3 linked regions of the Homo sapiens genome follow. The protein of the gene in region 1 purifies or fractionates together with the protein of each later gene. This does not show direct contact. Each region holds a gene or a part of one and is shown in the gene's direction. Other genes may lie near its edges.

Region 1 (3,752 bases):
TATCATGAAAGTATTAGGTAAAAATATATGCATTGCTGTACACAGGAGGTACAGTACCTTGTATTTATATTACATGTGGTTTATTTCATTTGACTGTCACAAATGCCAGGGAGATAAATCAGGTATCTTAATCTGACATAAAAATAAGCGTGACGCAGACAGGCTAGGTGACCTTAGCCTTGTCTAAGCACATTTTACATTATATAGGGCTCTTTCATATTGTTCCCAACTTCTAGGACTTTGTCACCTTTTGGAAAAGCAGAAATAAAATTAGGCACATGAAAGTTTAAATAATCAAATCAACAGAATGGATTTTAAGTAGCATTTTGTGCAGTGGAAAAGGAAGAAGTGAAACAAGCGATTTGCAAGCTCAGAAAGATCAGCGCTTTGTTGCTTAGGCTGAGAAAATCTCCCTCTCCACAAACATCCAGCTTCTTCCTGCTCACTGACAACTGCCACCAATTATCGCTCCACTTCCAGGTAGCACCTGAAAGTCACTTTAGGAACCACAGGCCACTGGTCTTCTCTTTGTCTGCCCATGCACACCAACTGGATTACTTAGCTCTTCTGGTAAAGCTCCTGGTTAAATAAGTTGTTAGTATGTCTTTTTTAATGCTTTGATTTAATTTGAATGGAAAAGACATGGTAGTCTACATACTTCTACCAAGATGAAGATGACCAAGATGTTCTTGAAAATCCAAAAGTCTAGAAGACCACTGGATGTCTTTTTTTTTGAGATGGAGTCTTGCTCTGTCGCCCAGGCTGGAGTGCAGTGGCACGATCTCGGCTCACTGCAAGCTCCGCCTCCCAGGTTCATGCCATTCTCCTGCCCCAGCCTCCTGAGTAGCTGGGGCTACAGGGGCCCGCCACCACGCCCGGCTAATTTTTCGTACTTTTAGTAGAGCTGGGGTTTCACCACGTTAGCCAGGATGGTCTCGGTTTCCTGACCTCGTGATCCGCCCGCCTCGGCCTCCCAAAGTGCTGGGATTACAGGCGTGAGCCACCGCACCTGGCCGAGGTCTTTTACTGTGTATGTTACTTTTCTTTACATTCAGAGTAGAGATGCAACTATTTTATTAAGCAAAGAATTGGCTGCATAAACGTCCACTGAAGGCACAAAAGCTAAATAGCTACCCACCAATAATCTCATTCAGTGAGAAAACTAGTCCAATCAGAGACCCAAGGAGTGGCTTCCAGTCACATTTGTACCTTTCCTTAAAGAACATTCTTCCTGTCCTTTTAGTTACATATGTTTATGTTTACATATTGCCAAAAAAAAAAAAAAAGCCAAGGTTTGGTGGAAATGGCTAAAGTAAGCTGTACTTTATTCACTCATAATAGGAAATAACAATTTCATATACTGAGCCCTGAGTTCAAGTTCACTTTTTTTTTTTTTTGAGAGGGGGGTCTGGGTATGTTGCCTAGGCAGATCTTGAACTTTTGGGCTCACGTGATCCTCCCACCTCCGCCTGCAGGGTCGTTGGGACTATAGGTGCATGTCACCATGCCAGGCTCTCAAGTTCACTTGAGATAAAGAATACCCAACACTGTGTAAGCATAGACTCCTGTCCAAAAGTGGTGGTGAAGCGTGAAGGGGGCTGTCCTATGGTGGTGGTGTAGAGAAGGGGTATGAAAGAAAGTGCCAGTGACCTTACATTTGATCCTTTCCAATGGTAGTAGTGGGGTGGGGGGGTATGAAACAGAGTCAGTGACCTTGCAATTATCCTGTCCACTGGCATTGGGGAGGTAGGGGGTGTTATTGACCCTTGACCTCACAATGGATCCCGTCCAACGGTGGTGGTGGGGGGACATGAAATGCAATCAGTCACTTAATCTTGTGCGGGAAGGAGGGGAAAGGAACCACGAAAAAGAGAATCAGCGAACTAACAATCCAGTCCAAAGGTGTTCCAAAGGTGTTCTCTTGGGAGTCAGGCAGGGAGGTGGGGGTGGGGCTGGGCCACGAAACAGAGTCAGTCTAGTTAGGCTGTAAAATCTAAGTGTCAGGATGCAGCGAACGGCAAGTCCTCCTCCCGGAAAAGGCGCCTGCGGTTGAGAAGGGTCTTGAGCAGCGCGGAGGATCGGATTCCGGGCTCCTGGCCTCTTCCCGGTCCGCGGGCACCTCGGCTACCTTTCGGCAGCGGAGAACCCAGCCAGAGGCGGAGCTGAAAGCGGCTGCACTTGCTGGGCTGGGCTGAGTCCCATGAGCCAGGGAGGGGGGTCTCTGGCGCCGCGCCCGGACAAAACACAAACGTCACAGAGGCAGCGGCGGCCAATCAGTGGAGGGCGCGCGCGGCCGCGTGCCCCTCGCGCTCCTCGCCTCCCCTCGCGCGCCGCGTACGTGCAGCAACCGACTCCGCCCAGCGAGGCGGAGCCTAGGGAAGCCGCGGGCGGCCCGCCGCTGTCCTGGAGCTGCTGCTGCTGCTGCGGCGGCTGCACCGGCGGCGCCGAGGCCGAGATCGAGGCCGGGGTGCGCGCTTCGCAAACGTGCCCTATCCGTGCGGCTTGGCTGCGCCAGCCCTTGCGGCCACCCGGGCGTCTAGGCGGGTCTGTGCGCCGCCCGGGCGAGGATGCGGCTGTTCCGGTGGCTGCTGAAGCAGCCGGTGCCCAAGCAGATCGAGCGCTACTCGCGCTTTTCGCCGTCGCCGCTCTCCATCAAACAATTCCTGGACTTCGGTGAGTACGGGGCCAAGGGTCCCCATGGGCCCGGGGCCGCCGCCATTCGGGCTGCCACCCCGGATCTCCGCAGCTTCGGGGTAAAGTCTGTGGGAACCGCAGGCGGGGCTAGGGAATATCCGGGGGGCTCTCCTGGGGCTCGGATTTCGGGGCGCGGAGGGGCAGGGCCTGGCCCCCTCGCACCCAGCCTGGGACTTACCCGGAGACACAGAAACGGCGTCTCATTGCAGGACCCTCATCGCAGGCGAGACTCCCCAAACCTGCGGTCGTTAGCTTCAAATCTGCTTGACACAAACCTCACAGCCCTTAAAACTTCAGAACGAGATGTGGGTGGCTTTTTAATGTTTTTATTTTTAGAATTTTTTTTTTTTGGTTGGGTAAGAACTGTTTAGAAATACCTTGAGGTTGAATAAATTATGCAATGGCATTTTGTTCCTTTTCTGCTCTAAGGTGTTGCTGTGTGGCTGGAGTGGCAGGACTCGAACTGTTGTCTTCATCAGGTTATGTTAAATCAGTTAGAGGCCTGGCCTGCAGACGCCTTAGATGCTTGGGAAGAGCGGACGTCTGGGATCCTAGCATCAGAGCAGGGTCTAATACAACTCTGGCTTTAGTGCCAGCACCTTTCGTTTCTCTTCTCCATTGGTGTCCCACCCACATTCTCCCTGTCCGGTGGGCTGGTGGGCGGCTTTCACGGATTGAGGTGGGACCAAAGAAGATTCGGGTTCCCAGCCTGCCTCAGGCCTAGCTGAGATGGGAATAGATTCCACCACCTTCTGTTAACTGAATCATGTTTCCCCAGAAAACGAAGGAGCTGGTTGTGAAACACCTAAAAGTAAAACGCATGCATTGAGGTATCAGAATGGAACTCAGCATCCCTGGAGGAAAATCAAATCCAGCAGCAAAGATGTTCTAAGCTCTCCAGGGGAAATCGTAGGGTGTCTGTTCATTTAATGAATTTTATGTAAATGTCAAGGGTGTCAGTGATAGTGTCAGTTGGGCATAAAAACTAAAGTGCAGAGTAGGTAGAACATTTGAGGAAGACCTGATATGCAAAAAGTGATGTCCATACTTTTTTTTTT
Region 2 (3,752 bases), on another chromosome or scaffold:
TTGGCTCTATTGTCCGTGAATAGCTTGAATCCTATCTAGCTGGGGGGCATGTAAGAGGAGAAGCTCAACAGCTCAGGATAAACATTTTACCCTGATGTCTGGAAATTTCATTCTTTCTTTGAAAAATGTAGATGGATTTGGAAGGATAGCAATAAAAGTCAAAAAGTCATTATCAAGATTAATCAGTTTAATTGAAATGCTTCAACATTGTTTGATTTCAGATGTCTATTTTTAAGTTGAATTTAGGATATATAGGGTAACTGATGACCAAGAGGTCTATGGGAGTTTCACATTTTATTATTTATTATCTTAACTAGATCCTGTTGAGAAATTTTTTTTTTTAAAGGACATCTTCTGTGGGAACCCGTAGTACAGATATTTTCCAATTAGCATCTTTGTATGTTCTCTTCTGGCATGAGTCGGGTTTAGGCTTGACACACTGGGCTTTTAAGGGGAGCTCTATCTTTGCAGTCCAGGCTACGTGTGACAAGATTAAATTGGCACACTTTACTGTACAGCTCTTGTGTTCCTGGCAGCACTGGCCTGGCTGATACCTCTGAGAGAAGGCTCAGCTGTCACTCACTGACCCATTAACACTACTGTTCTATCCTGCAGTGTCATTTTTCTCATTCTTATGGAGATAATGCTCCCTGGAGATCTCCAATACCTGGAGGAATGAAAGAGAACAGCAGAGACAGGCTAACTATCAAAGAGGGAGCAAACAACACAGCAAGACCATGAATTCCAACAGTTGAATTTTCAATTGAGTGAAAAGATGAGGCCTATTATGATGGCTGGGTTCAGAAGGTGGGGAGACGATCAAGTTTTAAGAGGTATCTTAACTTTTTAACAAGCTATTTTCTCTTTTCTTCCTGAATATTAAAAGAAGTGCCCAAAATAACACCTGCAACTAGATATAGAGAAGGCAGCTGCTTTGAACATGTAATAGGGACATTTGGGTAAGAATTTATCATTTGCAAATAGGCAATGGATATAAAACAGAGCATGCATTAAGGTGAATGGCTTAATATTCTAAATAAAACAGGATCCCTAGTTAGGGTTGGCTTATTGGGGCACAAAATCGCCTTCCTGGTAAAAGCACAAAAAGAGAGAAATGATATGTGATCTTTGTATCCCTTGGTCTAAGGCTTCTCTTCTCTTGTGATTGAACGGTTTCCAGTGGCATAAGCAAACTCTGTTGCTCTCTTGTAGTCCAAACTGTGTATTGTTTGGTGGGTCACTTTATAAGAAGTAACACTTTCTAATGGTTACTACATAAAAAGGCACTATAAGAACATGTTTCTAGATTTCCTGGACTAAGGCTGGTCCAGTTTGATTGATATGAAAGCAAAATAAATAAATAAATAAATAAATACCACCTGAAAGTCTATGGAAACCTGCTGAAGACATTTTTATAGAAAACCAAAAAGAAAAAAAAGAGGAAATAAACAAAAGGAAGAGCAAAAGTGAAGTAGTCAGAAAATAGGGATAAAACTAGGTAAAAACAGAGATTCAGAATTATTAAACAGAGTAAGGAAAAGTGGAATGTCACAAACTACAAACTTTTTACCACAATCTGCACCTCAACCCTCTCTCCCTGCTTCCAATTTTCCCACACCAAGCAAAGTTTATTACTGGGTTTAAAGTGTTATCCTCAGGCCGAGGTTTGTATACATTTTCCCTCCCCACTTCAAGTGTCACAGGTGCTAGACGCCATCAGGATAAATGTGGCATATTATTTGAGAGTACTGACTTTTCTTTAAAAGGGGTTTTTGTTAACGTGCGTGTGCTTGTTTTGTTTTTAAAGTTAATTAAGCTACAAATAATTTACAGCTTTGTTGTTACCTTAAAATACATATGGCACATTATGGAGCAGGATAAATATTCATACCTATTTTAAAGATCAAAAACAAGACATTAAAGAAATATTGGTAGGAAGAAATACCTTTGGACTAACTCTCAGAACTCTCATGTGCCTTAGGGACTGAGTTTGTTCCTTTCTTCTATTTGATACGCTTGTCGGGAAAGCTTGAGATACAGTGCTCCAGGGTTTAACAGGGAAAAGGGACTCAGATTATTGAGGTTCAGCAATGACGGCGATTAGGATGCCCTGTAGTTTGCCCAAGTCCTCCAGAAAAGGAAATCACTTTTAGTCTTCATTTTACAGCTGGCAGGCACTGTACAAATCAGTCAGCTCAGGCTGCGTGGCCCATGTCCCAGTGCTGTGCAGGACCTGCCTCTATCACCCGTGTGCACTGCCCGGATGGTGCCAAGCGCATTGGAGCACCGGAAGGAGACGCGGAGCCGAGGCCAGGCCTTCCGGCGGTCGTTACGGGACGCCGCTGCCATCTACAGCACTCCGTGAAGAATATGCTGGCCGCCTTCATCTCCCGCGTGTTGAGGCGAGTTGCCCAGAAATCAGCTCGCAGAGTGCTGGTGGCATCCCGTAACTCCTCAAATGACGCTACATTTGAAATTAAGAAATGTGATCTTTATCTGTTGGAAGAGGGTCCCCCTGTCACTACAGTGCTCACTAGGGCGGAGGGGCTTAAATACTACAGGATGATGCTGACTGTTCGCCGCATGGAATTGAAGGCAGATCAGCTGTACAAACAGAAATTCATTCGCGGTTTCTGTCACCTGTGCGATGGTCAGGAAGCTTGTTGCGTGGGCCTTGAGGCCGGCATAAACCCCTCGGATCACGTCATTACATCCTATAGGGCTCATGGTGTGTGCTATACTCGGGGACTTTCTGTCCGATCCATTCTCGCAGAGCTGACGGGAAGAAGAGGAGGTTGTGCTAAAGGAAAAGGAGGATCGATGCATATGTATACCAAGAACTTCTATGGGGGCAATGGCATCGTCGGTGCACAGGGCCCCCTGGGCGCTGGCATTGCTCTGGCCTGTAAATATAAAGGAAACGATGAGATCTGTTTGACTTTATATGGGGATGGCGCTGCGAATCAGGGGCAGATAGCCGAAGCTTTCAATATGGCAGCTTTATGGAAATTACCTTGTGTTTTCATCTGTGAGAATAACCTATATGGAATGGGAACATCTACTGAGAGAGCAGCAGCCAGCCCTGATTACTACAAGAGGGGCAATTTTATCCCTGGGCTAAAGGTCGATGGAATGGATGTTCTGTGTGTTCGTGAGGCAACAAAATTTGCAGCTAACTACTGTAGATCTGGAAAGGGGCCCATACTGATGGAGCTGCAAACCTACCGTTATCATGGACACAGTATGAGTGATCCTGGAGTCAGTTATCGTACACGAGAAGAAATTCAGGAAGTAAGAAGTAAGAGGGATCCTATAATAATTCTCCAAGATAGAATGGTAAACAGCAAGCTCGCCACTGTGGAAGAATTAAAGGAAATTGGGGCTGAGGTGAGGAAAGAAATTGATGATGCTGCCCAGTTTGCTACCACTGATCCTGAGCCACATTTGGAAGAATTAGGCCATCACATCTACAGCAGTGATTCATCTTTTGAAGTTCGTGGTGCAAATCCATGGATCAAGTTTAAGTCCGTCAGTTAAAGGGAGGCTACGTGTGAATTTATCATCAGTCTCTCAATGGAATGTTCATGGTCAAATTTAAGAAACTGTGTTCTCAACTCAAGGAGGAATAAAACTCATAAAACAAAAGCCTTGTAAGCATTTATTAAAAGAGATTATTAAAAGAGATTGAAAGACATGCATTCAATAAAAGTGATATTATATTCAATTATACTGTATATTTTTGCATTAAAAGA
Region 3 (3,752 bases), on another chromosome or scaffold:
CACATGCTAAGCCTTTAAGCATGAATTTCTAACCCATACCAAGGGGTCAGTCCCCTGTAGTCTAATCTTGATCCATGTTGAATGTATTGTTTTAAAAAATCCATAATTTGAAGGAAAACACCACAGCAATAACAACAGCAATAATAATGCCTTTAACAATGAAAATGAAAACAAGTTACTAGCTATCAGACACTATTCTAAGGGCCTTACATATAACTCATTTATTCCTCATAACAACAATGTGAAGTAGCTACTGTTATTTGCATCTTACAGCTCAGAAAACAAGCATGGTGAGATAAGGAAACTTTACTAAGGTCACATAACTAGTAAGTGGTGGAGCCAGCGTTGAAACTCAGGAAGTCTGTACACAACTGGGAGGGAAGGCTAATATTTGAAATGATAGACTCAACATTCAATATTTCAGTATCGATGAGCTCTAAGTTGATAGAGCTATGTGTAAAAACCCTGCATTTAATATTAAGAAATCATTGGCAGAAGAGTAAGAGAGGGCTTTGGTCAAGTAAGCTGAGTGCATAAGAAAACTCTGGCATTTGAGGTGTCCTTAGCTCCAGATGCTTTGGTAGGGCAGAGTGTATCCATGGAGGTACCATGAGCTACCATGGAGGTAGCTCAGAGAGGAAAGGGAACAGTAACAGAGGCCTGCTTGGTTTTTAAACAGTTTTGCAAAGAGTATTATTTACGTATTTATACTAAGTCTACACCAGTTTTGAGTATTTGCCTACTACAGTGTAAGCAAATGCTTACAGGAAATTAGCACACCTCTGAAAGATCTCTGCACCAAAGGAATAGAAAAGGTTGAAGAAATTATCTTAAATTCATATAGAGATTTTAATGACTTTAAATGGAATTATAATCAACTGTATTTTATCTTCTGTTATATATTCAAGTTGTATGGTTGTATATCACTTGTCCTTGTCCATTGTATTTGGGTTTCATGCTTCATGGTGTCACTTTTTTAAATAGAAAAAAATGTGAATAGTTAAAAATAAATTTTATTTGATATTTAGATAATGGTAAAAATTGAAATGATGATAAATGCTGTTTATTGCCTACTTGTGAAGGTGTCAATGTTACGTTGGTAGAGTATATATGGAATCATTTATATGATTTACAGTAAATGAAACAGAAGGTGAGGTACCACTTTCAGATGTAGTACAGTTGTCTGACTCAGATTTTAGAAATCTATTGATATTTTTAAAGCAAAACTTTTTTTAATGCTTTACATTTGAATGATGTTCTTTGTACTTGGATATTGATCCTATTTCTGATTCAGTTTTGAAAGGAATTAACATCAAGTGGACTTCATGTCACTTAACAGTGCTTTTTTGTATACATTTTTAAAGAAAATTAGTCATTTTACTTTGATTTTTGAGTTAGCAATTCACAAGCAGGTAATTAAACACTTTTAGAAGAAAAATATTGGTCTAATAATAATCTTAACTCATCTTTTTGACATAGTAAAGAAAAAGGAACTCTGCAGAAGCAAAATTTTTTAGTATGTGGCAAACAACTAAGCAACTAGATTTTTCTTGGCTTTCTTAGTATTCTTCCATAGCTTGTAATTCATTAAACATTCCTATTCAGCTTTCTATACTAATTTCATATATATATATATGTATTTTGCTTCATGAAAGCATTGCTGCTTTTCTTCTTCATCAGTAATTAGTAAACTTAGCTTCCTAACCCCTTATAACTTATGCCTTATTAACGATAGTGAACATACCAGTAAGCATTGAAATTAGTGTTACTCTGATATGTCAAACTCATTCTAGAAGTTATGCTTTTCCTTACCATTACTGTATTAGTGGACGTCCTGCAGCCTATCATTCTATTGTTCATTAAATACAGCTAATGAACCTTATTTAGAGTAATTGAAAGGGAATAATAGAAGATTTTAAGGGAATGACATTTTCTTCCAGGAGTGAACTTATAAAATATTGTTATTTGAAGGTTTTCTAGGGACTTCTTTTTAGTAAGTAAATTAGAATTAGCCCTTTCTTTATAAATTAATGCTGCTGAAATGCTTAAAATATACTTAACTTTTAAAAACATTATCTTTGATTTTATTTAAGTGTTTAATTGGCATTATCTGTGGAAGAAATGCTTTATTAACTGAGACACCACTGTGTTTCTGATATACTTATAAAAAAACTCATGAGGTTTTATTTTATTTTTCAGGTTTTGTAAATAGATATACAGGGAAATAATTAAATATAAAGAAGTAGACTATATTTAACATTAACTGGAATAGTTAACCAGTTCTATCTATACATTAGAATGTTCATCTTTTCAGACTAAGTTTACTGAAAAGATTCTTGCATTAGGTAAATTTTAGTAGATTGGACTAAGTTGAGGGAGTTAATCCCTTCTGAGCTTTTAGAATTCTAAAGCCATTGCATAGAAACTCTCTGGGAAAGACAAATGGTTAAGATATGTAGCCACAGGCTCCTGTTTGGATTTGTATTGACATCAAAAAGAAGATGATAATGATGGATCTTACATGTTTATTTGAAGGCTCTCAGAAAGAGGATACATTCTAGATTTATCCTTTATTTCAGAAGGTAGCATTAGCAAGTGGGAAGAGGAGAATGGTGAAGGAAGGCATAAGTGGGAGAAAGTGGAGAAGGTGACAGGTGGAAGGCAGAGGCAAACTGTCTTGGAAGCAGCTTTTAGCTCAAATTAAGATATCTTAAGGGGAGAATTACCCAACAAAAGAACAAACTACTTAATGCAGTCATGGGGTTTTACTTCTCTACAGTTACTTCTTTTTTAAATATAGGTTGAAGAAGGAAGTAAAAATATACGGCTAGGTTCACTAATTGGTTTGATAGTAGAAGAAGGAGAAGATTGGAAACATGTTGAAATTCCCAAAGACGTAGGTCCTCCACCACCAGTTTCAAAACCTTCAGAGCCTCGCCCCTCACCAGAACCACAGATTTCCATCCCTGTCAAGAAGGAACACATACCCGGGACACTACGGTGAGTATATATTTATTCAAAGGATGATGTAAAAAAAAAAAGTTATGGCAGTTCTTATGGAATTGTAATCATTATCATATTCGCACATCGTTGTACATCACGTAGGAAGTTGCTGTTCTCAGCACACTCAGACCTTAGAGTGTGTGTTTTTTTTTTTAACCATCATTGTTCATTCAGTAAATAAATAGTTACTGAATATCTGCTATGTTCCAGGTACTCTAAAAGCCCTGCTTGCACAATGGAAAACCAAACAGTATGTGTCCATGTTGAGGTTGAATTAGGTTTTAGAAGTCTAAAATGGTATTCAATATACCAAACTTGATACTCTGTTCCCATTTATGGAGTTCTAATTACTGTTACAGGAATTCCAAGCTCAAATGTCTATCTGATATAAAATAGAATTCATGTTTTAACATGCATTCGTTTTCAAACTAGTCTGCATTATGACTTTCCGGCACAGACTAGAGCTCAATTTTGTCTGTTCTGTAACAAAACAGATAACTTAATACACATCATTTCACTTTAGTTTTACATTGCTTTAATAGAAGAACTCTGTAAATTCTAACATTTCATTTATTTAGTATTCTATATAATTATACAACATTACTTTTTCTTTACGAGAAAAAGATCTTCATAAAGTAGACCTCTTCATTCTTAAACATTTTTTCCTTTAGTTTATCATTGTCAGAAAAGAATCCACAGTGCTTTTTTTAGGGGGGGGCGTGCGGAGGTGGGTGACGGAGTTTTGATCT

Evidence for each region.
Region 2: the proteins of PDK3 (region 1) and PDHA2 purify together in Homo sapiens (affinity purification with mass spectrometry; 2 studies listed by BioGRID and IntAct, with this or other methods). This does not show direct contact.
Region 3: the proteins of PDK3 (region 1) and PDHX purify together in Homo sapiens (affinity purification with mass spectrometry; 2 studies listed by BioGRID and IntAct, with this or other methods). This does not show direct contact.

What each region holds. Positions count from the first base shown.
Region 1 is NC_000023.11:24,462,889-24,466,640, forward strand, and holds the start of PDK3 (pyruvate dehydrogenase kinase, isozyme 3 isoform 2 precursor), read left to right. Parts: upstream 1-2,397; 5' UTR 2,398-2,567; coding exon 2,568-2,673; intron 2,674-3,752. UniProt on the Homo sapiens protein: Inhibits pyruvate dehydrogenase activity by phosphorylation of the E1 subunit PDHA1, and thereby regulates glucose metabolism and aerobic respiration. Can also phosphorylate PDHA2.
Region 2 is NC_000004.12:95,837,781-95,841,532, forward strand, and holds PDHA2 (pyruvate dehydrogenase E1 component subunit alpha, testis-specific form, mitochondrial precursor), read left to right. Parts: upstream 1-2,312; 5' UTR 2,313-2,370; coding exon 2,371-3,537; 3' UTR 3,538-3,684; downstream 3,685-3,752. UniProt on the Homo sapiens protein: The pyruvate dehydrogenase complex catalyzes the overall conversion of pyruvate to acetyl-CoA and CO(2), and thereby links the glycolytic pathway to the tricarboxylic cycle.
Region 3 is NC_000011.10:34,954,584-34,958,335, forward strand, and holds part of PDHX (pyruvate dehydrogenase protein X component, mitochondrial isoform 1 precursor), read left to right. Parts: intron 1-2,800; coding exon 2,801-3,000; intron 3,001-3,752.